2 separate regions of the Homo sapiens genome follow, and region 2 is linked to region 1. The links come from fine-mapping of genetic effects on gene expression. Tissue or cell type: hippocampus. Region 1 holds a variant in brackets; the other region holds the start of a gene. All regions are shown on one strand. Distances are from middle to middle.

Region 1 (8,104 bases):
CAGCCAGCCCAAGTTCTGTCCTCACTGCTTAAACCAACCACATGCTGATGTCAGCAGCACTTTGACCCTCTCATCAGAGACATGTCTAAGAGAATGAATTTTCAGCTGCCAATACTCAAGTGTGCCCTTGGGAGGTAGTGGGCCTGGTGGTTTGGTCCCCGTCCCTGTCCATGCTTGTGAGAAACTCCAGACACCTTGGAGGCTCAGGACCCTTTCTAAAGCCCAAAGCCCCAGCACAAGACTCTACCCTGACAGGCCCCACTTCAGCTAGAACCCCTGGCAGATCTGCAACCCTGGCCTTGGGTTAAGCAAACCCCAGGATCTACTGCTCCATCCTTGTGAGGGGCTGAGAGCACCTGCAGAAACCTTCAACCCTCTGACCTGGGTAAGGAAGGGATAGGAAGAGACCCCAAACAAGGTTTGGCCATCTGGGATGCTTCTCTTGCCCTGGTTTGCCTCAGATCATGTCAAGGTTGCTGAGGAGGAGGGAGAACTCATCTCTGCAGGCCAAGTTCAAACCCCACACGGTAATCTGGGCCGACCTGAATCAGGACTGAGATGGCCACGGCTGAGCTCAGGCTCTCCCCGACAGGTGTGTGGGCCTCAGGGAGCATCTTGCAGAGCTGGCACACACTCTTCACCCCTACTGAGGCTGCTAGCATTGTAGCTGCCACAGCCGTATCCCACACCACTATCCTGCGCCTCAGTCTTGACTATCCACAGCGGGAGGAATTGGCCAGCTGTGCTTGCACACTGGCCCTGCAGTGTGCTACGAAGCATCCACAGAGCTGTGCCCTGTCAGCCCTTACACTCTGTGAGAAAGACCACATTGCCTTTGAGGCAGCCTGCCAGATTGCCACCGAGGCTGCTGCCGGTGGCATGACCCATTCACAGCTGTTCACCATTGCCTGCTACGTGGAGCTCCAGGGCTACACGCTCCACGCCTTCAAGCTGGTCTCATTGGCCATGAGCCATCTTCACCTGGCTCATAACCAGGATACCCACCCAGCCATCAGTGATGTGCTCTGGGTTTGTGCCCTCAGCCACTCTCTGGGCAAGAATGAGCTGGCAGTTCTCATCCCCCTGGTGGTGAAGAGTGCGCACATTGCCATGGTGCTTTCAGACATCCTGTGTGCGAGGCTGCACGGTGACTGCACCTGGCCTGGCCGGCACCCCGGGCCACCACAGCTCTGGAAAGCTCATCTCCACTGACAGAGCTCCATGGCACCAGTTGCTGATGCAATGCTTACATCAACACCACACACTACACCTAACACACATTAGCCATTGCCAGTATGGACAGTTCATTGAGTTTCTAAGCAAGGCTCGGGAGACCCTCCTGCTGCCTTAGGATGGCTACCTGCAATTTGCCCTGTTCATCAACAACCACAAACGATCTACAAAGGCAAGAAAAAGCTGATGCTGCTGGTTCGAGAGCCCTTTGACTGAGAAAGCAGATAGCTCACCGGCCCGGCAGCCTGGGTCCCCAGGTAGTATCAGGTCAGGCCAAAAACACTGAAACATTTGTCCACCCTGGGAGGACTCTGAGCACCTGTGGCTGAGGCCAAAGGACCACAGGGCTAAGGATGGGGAGAGTCCAACTCCAGTCGGTATGCATACCTTGGCAAGCTTCTCACTACAGCCCACTGTTCGTGGAGAAGCTGGGCCTTGCAGATCGACCAGAAACCCCCACGATATGCCACCTTATGCCCCTACGTCCTGAGTGTCCTGGGCATTGGCCCTGTCTCCCTTGGCAAACACAGAACACTGTTCCATCTCAGAGATTGCTTCACCAGAGAAACAGATGCATTTAAGGTACTGTAAGTACTATAGTATATGTGTTGCCAATTACTGTAAAGTCGTAAGTATTTATAATTTTGGTTCTGATTTGCTGGGCACTTGAGGTAGCTGTGGGTGGGAGGGTATGCTTATTGTCCGAGGAGACTCACAACCATTTCTCAGGTTTCCCTTGCAGAGTGTGTGCCGTTACCAGTGGGATAGTGGGTGTGCCAAGGAGAAAAATGGCCAGTTAGAAAAAAATCCCAAGACTAGTCTATGCAGAATCTCTCGCCTACAGACAGGGCATTAATAGCCCAGTGGTGGGTGAGCAGCAGAGGCCAGGACTGGACTCAGACTTTTGCCTCACAAAGCTGTGAGGACTCTGAAGGTCCTGCCCCTGCCTCACACAGCCTCGCCAGGAGTCTGCTGAGCACCTTTGAAACAAGAGCAGGGAAAAGATGAAGGTCTGGGAAGCCACTGAGCTCACAATATTCATCTACACTGATCACCTTTGTGTTAGAAAGTGTGTGTATGTGCATGACTGAGTACATGTGTCTATGTGCATAGATATATCTGCGCGTGCCTGTCTGTATGTGCACATTATATGTTGATGTGTATGTATGTCAGTTCTATGGCTGTGTACCTGTGTGGATATGTGCACACTGGAATGTGGGTCTCTGTGTGAGGATGTAACATTTGCACACATGTGAGGGTGCATATCTATGTGTAAATGCTGTCATGTTTTGCATGTTTAGTGTGTGTGTATCTGGGCACACAGGAGTGCATGTGTAGAGATATGCGTCTGTGTGTATGCTTGCTCTCCATGCATCTGTGTTTTTATATGTGTAACTGAGCATATTTCTACATGTAGGGATGACTGCGTGTCCATCTTTGAGGATCTGCATGAATGTGTCCTTTTTGCGAGATTTCTCTTCCCATTCGTCTTAAATCTCTCTCACTAGTTAAATGTTTGTTCCCCATTTCTGTGCCTCCTCTATTTATTCCCTCTCACCAAACAAGCTTCTAAGCACCGGTCTCCCTCTGCCATCAGATTGGCTGCTTTCACTGCACATTTCCCTTCTCGCCCCGTACTTGCTTTCTTCCCCTGCCTTTCTACGTCAAGCTTCCTCTGCCTGCTTTTGTCACAGTCTCATTGCGTGCTGACTTGGAGGCTAGGGCTGGTCTGCACTTAGCCTCTCCCTTCTTAATTTCTAGCCCTAATGAGCAGCCCTGTCTTAGCCCTGGCTGACCTCCACAGTGTATCATCATGTTCCTGCTACCTTCCTGACCCCTATGCTCAGCCTGGAATTGTTGTAGGAGATAGCAAGGGCATTCAGAAGAGTCAGTTGGTTACCAGTGCCTTTGTGTTTACTCTTTTACATGTTAGATCCTGAGTTGGGGGTGGGGTTTGATAAGGAAGAGGTGGTATAGCTAGAATGCGAACTAAGAACTTCTCCATCTGCTTTACTTTTTCTTTTGTTGACAAACTGTCACCTTTTCTACTCCAAACTGAGCAAGAAGTTGTATTTGCCGTATGTAGCTACTCAAGTCCTACTGCCCAGCCAAGGGTCCCTACAATGTCTCAGCCCAGTTGATTGGTTAAAAAGAGAGAGAGAGAGGGAGGTCACTCTCATTTTTGTATCGCAATTGTCCTTCTTTTTAGCAAGTGTGTGAACTCACAGTGCTTTCTATGAATAAACCATGGATCACATGAAAGAGCATTTTTCTTAAAGAAAACAAAAATTGTCTAAATTTTTGTTTAGACAATTTTGTTTAGACAATCCCCAGAGGGGACCAGCAAATACTTAATAGAAGATTATAGATTT[C/T]CTGTGAGTGCATATGGCTCGGGGTGACCTGATTCTATAAAGCAAATGTTATTGTCCTCCTCAAATTCATGCGTTGGATTCTATGTGATGGTATTTGGGGGTGGGGCCTTGGAAGGTGATTCGGTTCATGAAGGCAGGGACCTCATGAATGGAATTGGTGTCCCTATCAAAGGGACTGCAGAGAGCTCCCTCACCCCTTCTGTCATGTAAAGACACAGTAAAAAGATGGCTGTCTATGAACCAGGAAGCCAGCCCTCTGCAGACACGGAATCTGCTGACCATTTGACCTCGGATTTTACCATCTCCAGAACTGTGAGAAATCAATTTTCTATGCTACCTAGTCTATGGCATTCTGTTTTGACACCCAGATTAGCTAAAGTACCAGCATGTCAATTTGCACACATAATTCTTGGAAACTCTGATGCCAAATCCTTGATGGCAAAAGGTGATTGATCTGCCGGAGACATGAGCCTACATCATCCCTCTTTCCACAATAAACCAGAGAGTCAAAACAGGCAAGAGTGGGTCAAGGTCTTCTAAAAGCCATACCTGAAAGGTTTCCAATAACAGATGACTCGATGGTAATTCAGCCACACAAACAACCACAACAAAAGACACAACTATCCGAGATTTTCAGGATAGCCTCAAAAACACCATCTAACATTAGGGAGTTCAAAAAGGTGAGAAGTTTCAGAAATCAAACTTTATTTATATTTCATTTCATAAACTTGTAATTCTAACACTATTAATAAATGCTAGGGCAGGTGGTGGCATGGAGAGCCTGGAGCACAACAGCTGTCTTTAAAAGCTTTCCTTGCTGTACCCTTTGGAGCCACCTCCTGGTCCCCTCAACCCCTGCCCACCTGTTAAGAGCCCGTTCGGGGCAGCACATTAGGGGCAAACAGCCTGGATGCCCAGTTGCAGACACACTTCCATGCCTGGAGGAGAAGATTGCGTCTGAGAGCAGGAGGAGCTGCTGGAACTCTTCTTCCCAGCCTTGTTTTAATGCTCTTGAGCATCACCTTCACAGAGATATACCCCACCAGAATTAGCACAATAAACAGGCCCTGCAGCAGCAGGGCTGTGGTTCCGGCGAATGAGAGAAGCCTCTCTCCAGCGAGGTACAGGAGTCCAGTCTGAATGCCCTGGTCTCCGCCTCCATGTTTGCCACCATGCCCAGGACTAGGGGCAGCATGGGATCTGCTGGCTGGGGCTGTGCTTGTCACCCCCTCCCTCCCACTTCTCTCTCCAGCCACGTTTTCAGCTCCAGCATTAAGGCCAGTGGCTACAGTAGGTGCCATGATTTCAGGCAGCTCCTGGCTGGGCTGGTCCTTGGCTGGAGCTCCCTCCACCTCCAGCGCTCTCTCTGGAGGGGGCTCTTCCCATGCTGGCTTTGGCTCGACAGCCGGTGCCGCAAGTGCTGCTATGTCTGCGTACGGACCAGGAGCTGAAAAAGGAGAAAGGGTCACCAGCATCAGTCACTTTCCACTGGAATTTCCAAACACAGAGACAACCTCACTGAATTCAAAGGCATTCCAGCCCAAAAGCACCGCCCCCGCAAAGTCTTCCAGGCTGCAGCCACCTCACCATGTGTCTGTGCCTCCATGGGCTCCCGAATCTCCTCCTGGACAAGGACAATGTGCAGAGGCAGCCCCGATGGGATCTCTGGTGTGGCCTGGCCAGCTAGGGCCTGCCCCGGGCTGTCCTGTGGTACCTGGGTGCGCCTTCTTACAAAGGGCCACAGGCGTCTGGGGTGAGGGATGAGCCTTCTTCGGCATTGTCGGAAAAGGCTCTCACTCCCTCCATTCCTGAAGCAGCAACCTCTCGAAGTGGGGAAGCAACAGGAGAACATCTTGCTCTCTTGAGCGTCTCCCACAAAGTGAGCTGGTTACGGCGCTGACTCTAGGATATGGGTGCCTGGTTACCAGAGTTCTAAGTTCTCTTCGTGTGTGTCATCATCGAGGAAGTGAGGTCGCTTCTTTACGGTTCTGTCCCCTAGGCCCCTTCCTTCCATAAGCCTACTCAGGACTCCACTGGGTTACTGACTACTCACCCTCCCCTCAGGTCATCTCCTGACCCGTACACAGTTATGTCCACCCAGGCTCTGCTTGGACACCTGTGCCTGATGTTCACCAGGGGCCAGATGTCGTCCTCAGGCCTGATGTCCACCTGGGGCCTGATGTCTGCCTTGGCCTATGTCCCTCTTGGGGCCTTGTGTTCACCTGGGGACTGTATCCAGCTGGGGCCTGATGGCCTACTGGGTCTTGTTGTTCACCTAAGGCCTTGTGTCCACCTGGGGACTGGTGATCACCTGGGGCCTGGGTGTCCACCTGAGGCCGGAGGTGCACCTAAGGCCTGAGTTTTCACCTGGGCCTGATGATCACCTGGGGACTGGGTGTGTGCCTTGGGTCTTTTCCCTTTTCCTGAACAGGGCTTGCAGTTTCCAAACCAGACACAATCTCCCAGTTGGAGAAAGAAAAAGGATCCTAGATGATAGTGAGACAAATTTCAGGAAACTCCATCCAAATAAGTAAATGAGAATGAGGACAGGATTCATTGTAAGTAACATTCTCAGGTGGTGTTCCAAAGTTATCTTTTGCCTGGGTACAGTGGCTCACACCTGTAATCCCAGCTCTTTGGGAGCCCAAGGTGGGAGGATCACTAGAGGCTAACAGTTTGAGACCAGCTTGGGCAATGGAGTGAGACCCCCATTCTGAAAAAAAAAAATCAAAAAATTTAACAGGCATGGTGGCATGTGCCTGCAGTCCCAGCTACTCAGGAGGCTGAGGTGGGAGGATCGCTTGAACTCAGGAGTTGAAGGCTGCAGTGGGTGAGGATCACAACACTGAATTCCAGCTGAGGTGACAGAATGAGACCCTGTCTCTCTAAAAAACAAGCAAGCAAACAAACCAAAAACCACAAACAAACCAGACCCCTCTTAGCAGAATACTTCCATGAGGTAATAAAAGGTATGTACCAAATGCCTACAACAAACATATGTCATGATGAAATGTTAAATGCTTCCCATGGAATTAGGTTCAGGACAAGGTTCCATCCACCATCGCATTTGAATCCCACGTTGCACAGTGTAAAGGGGCCTGCCCAAGGTCATAACATTGCACACTGGGTAAGTCAAGAGAACCCAGTACAGCACTTTAGATCCTTCATTATAGTTTTGTTCTAAAACTGCTCCTGTTATCTTTTGGACATGAGTCTCTTAAGTATTATCATTTGAATTCACGTATACTAGTTCATTTTCACACTGCTCTAAAGAATACCTGAGACTGGGTGATATATAAGCAAAAGAGGTTTAATTGGCTCACAGTTCTGCATGGCTGCGAAGGCCTCAGGAAACTTACAATCATGATGGAAGGCAAAGGGGAAGCAGGCAATTTCTTCACAAGGCAGCAGGAGAGAGGGGAGAGCAGGGGAAACTGCCACTTATGAATCCATCAGACCTCATGAAAACTCACTTACTATCATGAGAAGAGCATGGGGCAAACCACCCCCATGATCCAATCACCTCCCACCAGGTCCCTCCCTTGACACATGGGGATTAAAATTCAAGATGAGATTTGGGTGGGGACACAGAGCCAAACCATATCATTCTGACACTGGTCCCTCCCAAATCTCATGCCCTTTTCACATTTCAAAACCAATTATGCCTTCCCAACAGTCCCCCAAAGTCTTAACTCATTCCAGCATTAACCCAAAAGTCCAAGTTCAAAGTCTCATCTGAGACAAGGCAAGTCCCTTCCACTTACGAGCCTGTAAAATCAAAAGCAAGTTAGTGACTTCCAAGATGCAATGCGGGTACAGGTACAGGCATTGGGTAAATGTTCCCATTCCAAACGGGAGAAATTGGCCAAAACAAAGGGGCCAATGGGCCTCATGCAAGTCCAGAATCTGGTAGGGGAGTCATTAAATCTTAAAGCTCCAACATTATCTCCTTTGACTCCATATCTCACATCCAGGGCATTCTGATGTGTGCTCCCAAGGTCTTGGGCAGCTCTGTCCCTGCGGCACTGCTGTTTTTACAGGCTGGCATTGAGTGACTGCAGCTTTTCCAGGCACATGGTACAGCTGTTGATGGATCTACCATTCGGGAGTCTGGAGGATGGTGGCCCTCTTCTCACAGCTCTGCTAGGCAGTGCCCCAGCGGAGACCCTGTATGGGGGCTCCAACCCCACATTTCACTTCTACCCTGCTCTAGCAGAGGTTCTCCATGAGGACTCTGCCCCTGTGGCAGACCCAAAATTATATATATCATTATAGTTGATATTCTGAGGTAGAGATAAAAGAAGCTATCAGTTTGATTAGGAGGTTTGGGTTTCGCGTTTTCTATGGTAATGTAAAAAGGCAGGAGGATTAGTATGTTACAAGTTCACTGCAATTACAAATCAGTTTCTGTGCATATAAGAAAGCACAAAATCACAGACCTAAGGTCTTGATAGATATGAAAGCAACCCTATATGATATCATGCCCACATCTTTACCTC
Region 2 (8,104 bases), 570 kb after region 1:
AAATTCTCACGCATTGCTGGTGAGAATATAAAATGGTTCAGCCTCTGCGGAAAACACTATGCTGGGTCATCAAAAAATTAAAAATAGAAGTACTACTTGATCCAACAATTCTACTTCTGGGTATATACCCAAATAACTGAAAGCAGGGTCTTGAAGAGATATTTGTACACCCATGATCATGGCAGCATTATTCATAATAGCTATGATGTGGAACCAACATAAATATCCTTTGATAAATATATGGATAAGCAAAATGTGGTGTATACATTCAATGGAATATTAATTAGCAATAAAAATGAAGAAAATTCTGACACATGCTACAACATGGATGAACCTTGAGGGCATTACATTAAATGAAATAAGCCAGTTATAAAAAGACAAATACTATATGAGGTACTATATTAGATACTCATGCAAGGTACCTAAAATAGGCAAATTCATAGAGACAAAAAGCAGAATGGTGGTTGCCAGGGGCTGCGGTAATGGATACAGAGCTTCAATTTTGTAAGATGAAAAAATTCTGGAGATTGGTTGCATAACAATGTGCACACACTTAACACTGGGGAACTGTAAACTTAAAAGTAGTAAATGGTAAAAATAAAAATAATAAATAATAAATTTTATGTTATTTTACCACAATATTTATTAAAAGACAAAGATTAACTAATTAAACAAAATCCAGCCATAAGCTAATGGTAAGAGTAACAATTAAAGAAGACACAGAAAATTGAAAATCAGTGACTAGAAAAAGATATTCCATATAAATGCTAACAAAAAGCAAGTACAGCAATATAAAGAGAATGAACAAAAAAAAAATTAAATAAGATGGCTCGTTTATTCCCAAAAGGTACAATTCACCAAGAAGATACAAGAATTGTGAACCTTTAAGCACATAAAACAGCTTCAAAAATACAACATTTAAAGAAAAATATATATTAAACATAGAAATAGTACAAAAACCCCTACAAGAATCATAATGGGAGTCTTCAATACAACTCTCCATATCAACAGGTCAAACAGAGAAAAAAAATAAGTTAAGGATGCAGAAAACCTGAATTACCATCAATAAACTTGAGATTAATATAGAACTGTATACCCAATATACTAAGAGTTCAGGGAACAGTCGTGACTGACAGTGGACTGCAAATTAATCTGTTCTTAATCTTTGTTTTTCTTTCAGCACTGTGGCAGAATAGAGATCCTAAAAACCTTCCAGCTACAAAACATCTTTTTAAAAATATAAAAAAATACAAAAATAACTCTGAAATCAATAGAAGACACATGGTGAAACCAAAATTCTAGAATACAGGGAGAATAAAGGCATTTTCAGATATTACAAAAACAGAAAATTGATCATTGCTGAAGTAATTTCTAAAGAATGTACTTGAGGGAGAAGAAAAATGTTCCAAAGAAAAGTATCTGTGATACAAGAAGGAATGGAAAGTGAAGAAATGGTAAACAGGTAGATAAAGCTAATAAATGTTGACCTAGAAAATAACAAAAACAATAGCAATAATGTCTCGTTGGAAGGGTTGAAGTAAAAATACAATTAAGGCCAAATGTGAGGTAAGTGGAATGAAAGAATTAGAAGTCCTTGCCTTGTTCACAGGACTGATTAAATAAATGAGCCAGGTTTTCCATTCAAACAGTTAAAACTTGAACAAAATAAACTCAAATTAAGTAGAAAGATAAAAAACAGAAATTAATGTCATAGAAAAATAAAAAATCAATAGAATTAATCAATAAATCCTGGTTAATAAAAGCTGGTTCTTTGAAAGGATTAATAAAATAATCATTAAGCAAGTCTGATCAAAAAAAAAGAGAAAAGGTACCAAAAAAAGTACTGTATCAGAAAGAGAACATACAGATACATACAGATATGTAAGAGTCTGTTTTCTTACACCAGAATACTATATACAACATTATGCTAGCATATATTAAATTTCAATAATGTTAATGATTTTCTAGGAAAACAGAAAATATTAAATTTACTTTGAAGAAACAGAAAAACTGAGAAAAATAAATGATCATGAAAAAAATGAAAAGGTAATTAAATACTGATATTAACTGCCTAAACAACACCAGCAGCAGCCCAGGCAGTCTGCAGTCAAGTTCTGCCAAACTTGAGGGAACAGATAATTCTTCTATTCCAGAGCATAGAAAATGATGGAAAGTTTCCCAATTTAATCAGAGAGGACAGCCTGATCCTTGTTATGAACACAGATAAAAATGGGGTAAACTATATGCCAAACTCAGATACCAAAACCCTAAATAAGATGCTAGCTTATTGATGTGAACAATCCAAAAGTGCATTTTAAATTAGCCCAGGGTTTTAGAGAAAGAAAATCTAGCAATGTGACCACCACTTATGTTAACAATTTTAAGACGAAAATCTACATGATCATATCAATGCATGCTACACAAAAGCATTTGGGCAAAAAACCCAACACCCACCCTTGACTTTTTAAACTCTTAGTAATTAGGCATAAACAGAAATGTACTTAATGTGATAGAATACACTCGGTGAAGATACAGAGGGAATGCTCCCTAAAACCAAGCCCAAGACAAAGATTCCTATTTAACCTCAATAGTCAACACTGCAGCGAGAGTAATCTATGGAAGACAAGGAAAAAAGTAAAAACATGAGAGACATCTGTTGTTTAACAGACAATAAGATCACCTACTTGGAAGAGGCAAACGAATCAAGCGAAAAACTATTAAAACTGAGACAGGCTTTAGTATGGAGGCTCAGCTTCAGCTGTAGTTTGGGCTACCAAATTCAACTCGCTTGCTTGGAGAGTTAATCCTGCAAAGCTAATTTCTGTTGAGGTATTAGGATTGACAAGCCTGTGCTCCTCCCTCCTCCCCCATCTTCAACACTGAAATAACACGGTGTTTGGAACTGGATAACAGAATCTTCCAAAAACAAAAATTGTCCTGAAGGGCTGACTTGTGCCCTTACTCAAAAAACACTTTATCTGCTGCCTGCAGCTCCTACAGTTGCTGGTGGATAAGCCTGCCAACCAGCTCGGCGTAATTCTTCCTGCAGAGGGCAAGGAAGAGCACTTTCACAGGAAAATTTTTTTCCGAACTGTATGCCGCTTATTACATAAACTTACGTGCTGGCAAATGGAGCTCCAGCAAAATAAGATATTCAGAGTCAAACTTCCTTAGGAAAAAAAAAAAAAAAAAGCAAGCACATAACACTAATTTCCTTGCATGGGCACTGGGGAAGGAGGTCGTTACTTCCGCACGCCCGCAGGTCCGCACCACCGGGAAACCCACGGGCACCGCGCGCTGCCCCCGGGCCTTCCAGGTGCACTGCGCCGCGGCGCCCCAGCTGACCCGGGATGCGCAGCCCTAGCCCTTCCCCTGTCACCCCGGCCAGGAAGGGGCGGGAGCGCGGCGGACGCCGAGGGCGAAGGGCTTCTCGGTCCTCTGCACCACGCAGCACCCCCAAGGCACAACAGGGAGGGTGCGGGAGGCTCCCGAGACCCAGGAGCCGGGGCCGGGCGTGCCCGCGCACCTGTCCCACTGCGGCGAGGGCTGGGGTCGCCTCCAGGGCCGCAGCTGTCGGGAGCCACCTGGCTCTCAGTCCCGGGTCCCTGCGACAACCCTCGGGCCCGGAGGGGAGGAGGCGGCCACCTGCCGCTGCCACCTGCGGCACCGGTCCCACCGCTCCGGGCCGGGCAGGACAGGCCAGGACGTCCCTCCTGGGCTGGGGACAGGACACGCGACGAGGGGACCGGGGCCCCCGCGGCGAAGACGCAGCACGCCTTCCCAGAAAGGCAGTCCCGTGCCCCCACGACGGACTGCCGGACCCCCGCGCTCGCCCGCCCATCCCTTCAGACCACGCGGCTGAGGCGCAAAGAGCCGGCCGGCGGGCGGGCTGGCGGCGCGGCTAGTACTCACCGGCCCCGCTGGCTCAGCGCCGCCGCAACCCCCAGCGGCCACGGCTCCGGGCGCTCACTGATGCTCAGGAGAGGGACCCGCGCTCCGCCGGCGCCTCCAGCCATCGCCGCCAGGGGGCGAGCGCGAGCCGCGCGGGGCTCGCTGGGAGATGTAGTACCCGGACCGCCGCCTGCGCCGTCCTCCTTCAGCCGGCGGCCGGGGGCCCCCTCTCTCCCAGCTCTCAGTGTCTCATCTCCCTATCTGCTCATCCTCTGGTCGCACATAATCGATGTTTGGGCGTCCCAAGCCAGATGTGGACCCCATTTCCGCACTCTACACTGGAGGTTTTCTAAGGGTGGTGCCCGGACCAGCAGCTTCAGCCTCATCTGGGAACTTGAGAAAATGCAGATTCTCCGTCCCACCCAGCCTATTCGGTTTTTCCTGCACTAAAACCATGAAGGTGGGGCCCAGCAGTCCACATTCTCGCAAGCCCGTCAAGTGATTCTGAGGCGCCCTCCAGTTTGAGAGCTATGCTCACGGCCTCACCTCCGCCCCGCAAGGAGCCCGGTCTTGCCTGTGGCGCTAGCCGCACACGGACACCTCATCCTGCGGGGCCCGCCCCCCCGCTGCACCCTCACCGCCCAACGCCTCCTCCGGGATGCAGCGGAGGCGCCTGGAAGTCGGCAAGGTCAACATCCCCCTCAGCATCTTCCCTACCCTCACGGCTCCTCCTCCAGGGGTGCCTCATGGCCAGGGGTTAGAAAGAGCCACTGTGTTTCTTGACATGGAAGTGGCCTAAGACCTTAATGAAAACTGCAGGAGTGGAATGACAGAACCTTTGGTCATACTTGAGGGCGTGAAGCTCAAATGAGGAGGAAGGAAAGGATCCAGGGAGAATAACCAACCCTGGCAAGTTGTGGCGCCCAGGTAGAGGGGCGAGCCTAGGCTAGCGGTTCTCGACCAGGGCCGGTGTTGCCCCTCCTCGCCGCCCCGCGTACATTTGGGGAGGTCTGGAGACATTTTTGGTTGTCATGATGCGGGAGTTGCTACTGTTGCCTAAGTGGGTAGACACGAGGGTGCTCCTCAACATCCTACCTGAAGGACAGGACTGCCCCACAAGGAAGAATGATCCGGCCCCAAATAAGAAACCCTGGGCTGGTCAGCAACAACCCCTTTGTTCTGAGAAGAGAGGAGGAAAGAATAAAAGAAGTGGGGTGAAGTTTTGGTTTGGTAGAGGAAACTTGAAGACATTTTCACTGGAAAGGAAGAGAGGAAGAGGAGGGAGATGTCTGTAAGGACGAGCAAACCGGGTGACAGCTGATTTCCTCATATTGAAGTAATGAGTCCTAGTTATAATAAATTCCTAATAAAAACCCAGTTTATCCCTGCAATAAACTTGTCTTTTTTTTTTAAATATACTGCTTGATTCTGTTTGCTAATATTTTATTTACAGGCTTTGCATTGATATGCAAAAATGAGATGGGCAATAATTTTCTTTTTGAATGTCTAATGTTGTTTGGTTTCAGAATCAATGTTATGCTCACATCATAAAAAATTTGGAACCGAGGCAGGAGGAGTGCTTGAGGCCAGAAGTTCGAGACCAGTCTAGGAAACACAGTGAGACCCCCCCATCTCTACAAAAAAAAAAAAAGAAAAAAAAATGGGCATGTTTGCTTTTTCCTTTTACTCTGAACAATTTAAGGAGCATTAAAATTATCTATTCTTTGAGGTTTGATCATTTCCCAGTTAAAAATGTTCCTCCCAGCCTGATGCTTTCTTTGGGGAGGGTAAATCTTTTAAGGCTAGAAAAGTTTCTTCTGTGGCAATTTTATTATTTACATTTTAAAAATTATTCTAGAGTTAATTTTGATAAAGCATGTATTTCTTAAAACAAATTATCCTTTTTTTCCAGATGTTCAAGTGTATTTGCATAAAGTTGAGGAAAGTAGTCTTTTGTGAATCTTTTAACTTCTCCCAAATATCTTATTTTGTGTATTTTTGCTTCTTTATTTTGTTAACTTTTAAAAGTGTATTTTTTTTTCAAAGAATCAGCTCTTAGGTTTATGTTTTTGGTTATACTGGAGCTTTTTTCTTCTTCTTTTTAAAATATTTTTTCTCCTTTATTTTTTAGACGTATTTTGATCTAACGTAATCGGAAGAAGGTAAATTAGAATCTTTTGTTACTATTGTGTTTTTATTTCTCCTTATTTCTCTGAAGTCCTGCTTTATAAATAGTACCATGTTATTTGTGCATAAATATTCATTTGTCTTATATTCTTGGGAATTTTCCCACTTCATCATAAAATGACCTTCCTTGTCTCATTTAATGTGTTCAAACTTTGCCCTGAATTTAACTTTGTCTGATATTTTACCATCCTGCTGAATTTTGTTTGTTACCCCAAACAACCTTTGCTGTTTTCGTCTTTTCTGAACCCTTTATTTTAGGTAATCCCTTGAATTAGAGCACTAAGTTTTGCTTTGTGATTAAATCTGAAAATCTTTATCTTGCCATAGATGAGTTGAGCCCTATTCATGTGACAGCTATATTATGCTGTTTCATAGCCCTTTTGGTCCTTTTTTCACTCTTGCATTGCATATTTTGTGTTTATTGTGTTTTGTGTTTCTTCTGATAATTTGGAAGGTTTGTATTTTTATTCAGGGAGTTGCCTTATAATCATACTCCGCAATACACATCGTCCTCAGTTTCTTCAGACTGTCTGTTAACTCCCTATTCTGAATAAAAATGACATTGTAATTTCCCTCTTTTTTCTTTACCCCTTTTCTTCTCCTCACCTAATGTAAATGATTTTATCCTTCTTTAGTATTTGCTTTTTTAATTAACTACATTTATAAATATCTTTATCACTTGATTTTTAAATCAGCTTTGAATGAGATATTTGGATTCCTAGATATAAAAGATGTTAATTATACCATTTCCACGTTAGTAGGTTTATAAAATCATACATTCTGCTGTGTAACCATAATCCCACGTTTGTTTTAGTTCCACTCCTACAGTTAAAAGATTCAGAAGTATTATTAACAGTTATTTTGCCATAGTTTTTTCCCCAACCCATTTTGTGGTAAGTTATGATCCTGCTTTAGTTTCTTAAGAATAATTTATAGAGCAGAGTGTGGTGGCTCACGTTTGTAATCCCAGCACTTTGGGAGACAAGAGGTAGAAGGATCGCTTGAAGCCAGCAGTTCAAGACCACCCTGAGCAACATAGTGAGACCTTGTCTCTACAAAAAATTTTAAAATTTAGCCAGACGTAGTGGCGTGTGCCTATAGTCCCAGCTACTCAGGAGGCTGAGGCAAGAGGATTGCTAGAGCCCAGAAGTTTGAGGCTGCAGTGACCTCTGATTGTGCCACTGCACCCCAGTCTGGGCAAGAAAGTGAGAACCTATCTCTTTAAAATAACAATAATAACTTATGAAAATTATATTCCCTGAGTTTTTCATGTTTAAAAATATTTGTTGCCTTTATCCTGTAAAAGTTTGAGTATAAATTCTTGGGTTATACTTTATTTATTGAAGAATGTATAAGTATTGTCTTCTAGAATTGAGTGTTGCTGTAATGAAACCAGAAGTCAGCCTGGTTTATTTTTCCTCAGAAATGAGGTAATTGCCGGCCGGACACCGTGGCTCATGCCTGTAATCCCAACACTTTGGGAGGCCGAGACAGGTGGATCACGAGGTCAGGAGATTGAGACCATCCTGGCTAACATGGTGAAACCCCGGCTCTACTAAAAGTACAAAAAGTTAGCTGGGCATGGTGGTGGACGCCTGTAATCCCAGCTACCCGGGAGGCTGAGGCAGGAGAATGGCGTGAACCTGGGAGGAGGAGCTTGCAGAGAGCTGAGATCGCGCCACTGCACTCCAGCCTGGGCGACAGAGTGAGACTCCGTCTCAAAAAAACAAAAAAAAAACAAAGAAGTGAAGTAATTGCCATGATGCTCCAAGAATTATCTCTTTGTCTATGAAATCCAGAAATCTCACTGTTATACATTTTGGAATTATTATTCTGGGCCAATATTTCCTGGGACACAATAGATTGACTCTATAGATTTAATTTTTTTTTTTTTTTTGAGACAGAGTCTCACTGCAATCTCAGCTTACTGCAACCTCTGCCTCACGGGTTCAAGCAATTCTCCTGCCTCAGCCTCCCAAGTAGCTGGGACTACAGGCGCGTGGCACCATGCCTGGCTAATTTTTGT

Evidence for each region. PIP is the estimated chance that this variant, and not a neighbour inherited with it, causes the effect.
Region 2: it holds the start of SPECC1-DT, and the variant in region 1 is fine-mapped to the expression of SPECC1-DT in hippocampus (GTEx, PIP 0.99).

Annotation. Positions count from the first base shown.
Region 1 is chr17:20,577,097-20,585,200 of GRCh38, reverse strand. CDRT15L2 (CMT1A duplicated region transcript 15 like 2) reads right to left here and starts at 5,477. Exons shown (of 2, transcript NM_001190790.2): 1 at 5,193-5,477; 2 at 4,290-5,052. The coding sequence starts at 5,457. The coding sequence ends at 4,472. LOC105371580 (a long non-coding RNA gene) reads left to right here and starts at 5,510. Exons shown (of 4, transcript XR_934315.4): 1 at 5,510-6,163; 2 at 6,349-6,574. It also overlaps the pseudogene ZSWIM5P2. RefSeq lists enhancers at 430-967, 5,316-6,314. The variant C/T (reference allele first, on the strand shown) is at 3,606.
Region 2 is chr17:20,005,233-20,013,336 of GRCh38, reverse strand. SPECC1-DT (SPECC1 divergent transcript) reads left to right here and starts at 4,077. Exons shown (of 1, transcript NR_186461.1): 1 at 4,077-5,282. SPECC1 (sperm antigen with calponin homology and coiled-coil domains 1) reads right to left here and starts at 3,978. Exons shown (of 15, transcript NM_001243439.2): 1 at 3,913-3,978. RefSeq lists silencers at 3,307-3,486, 3,507-4,176 and an enhancer at 4,609-5,176.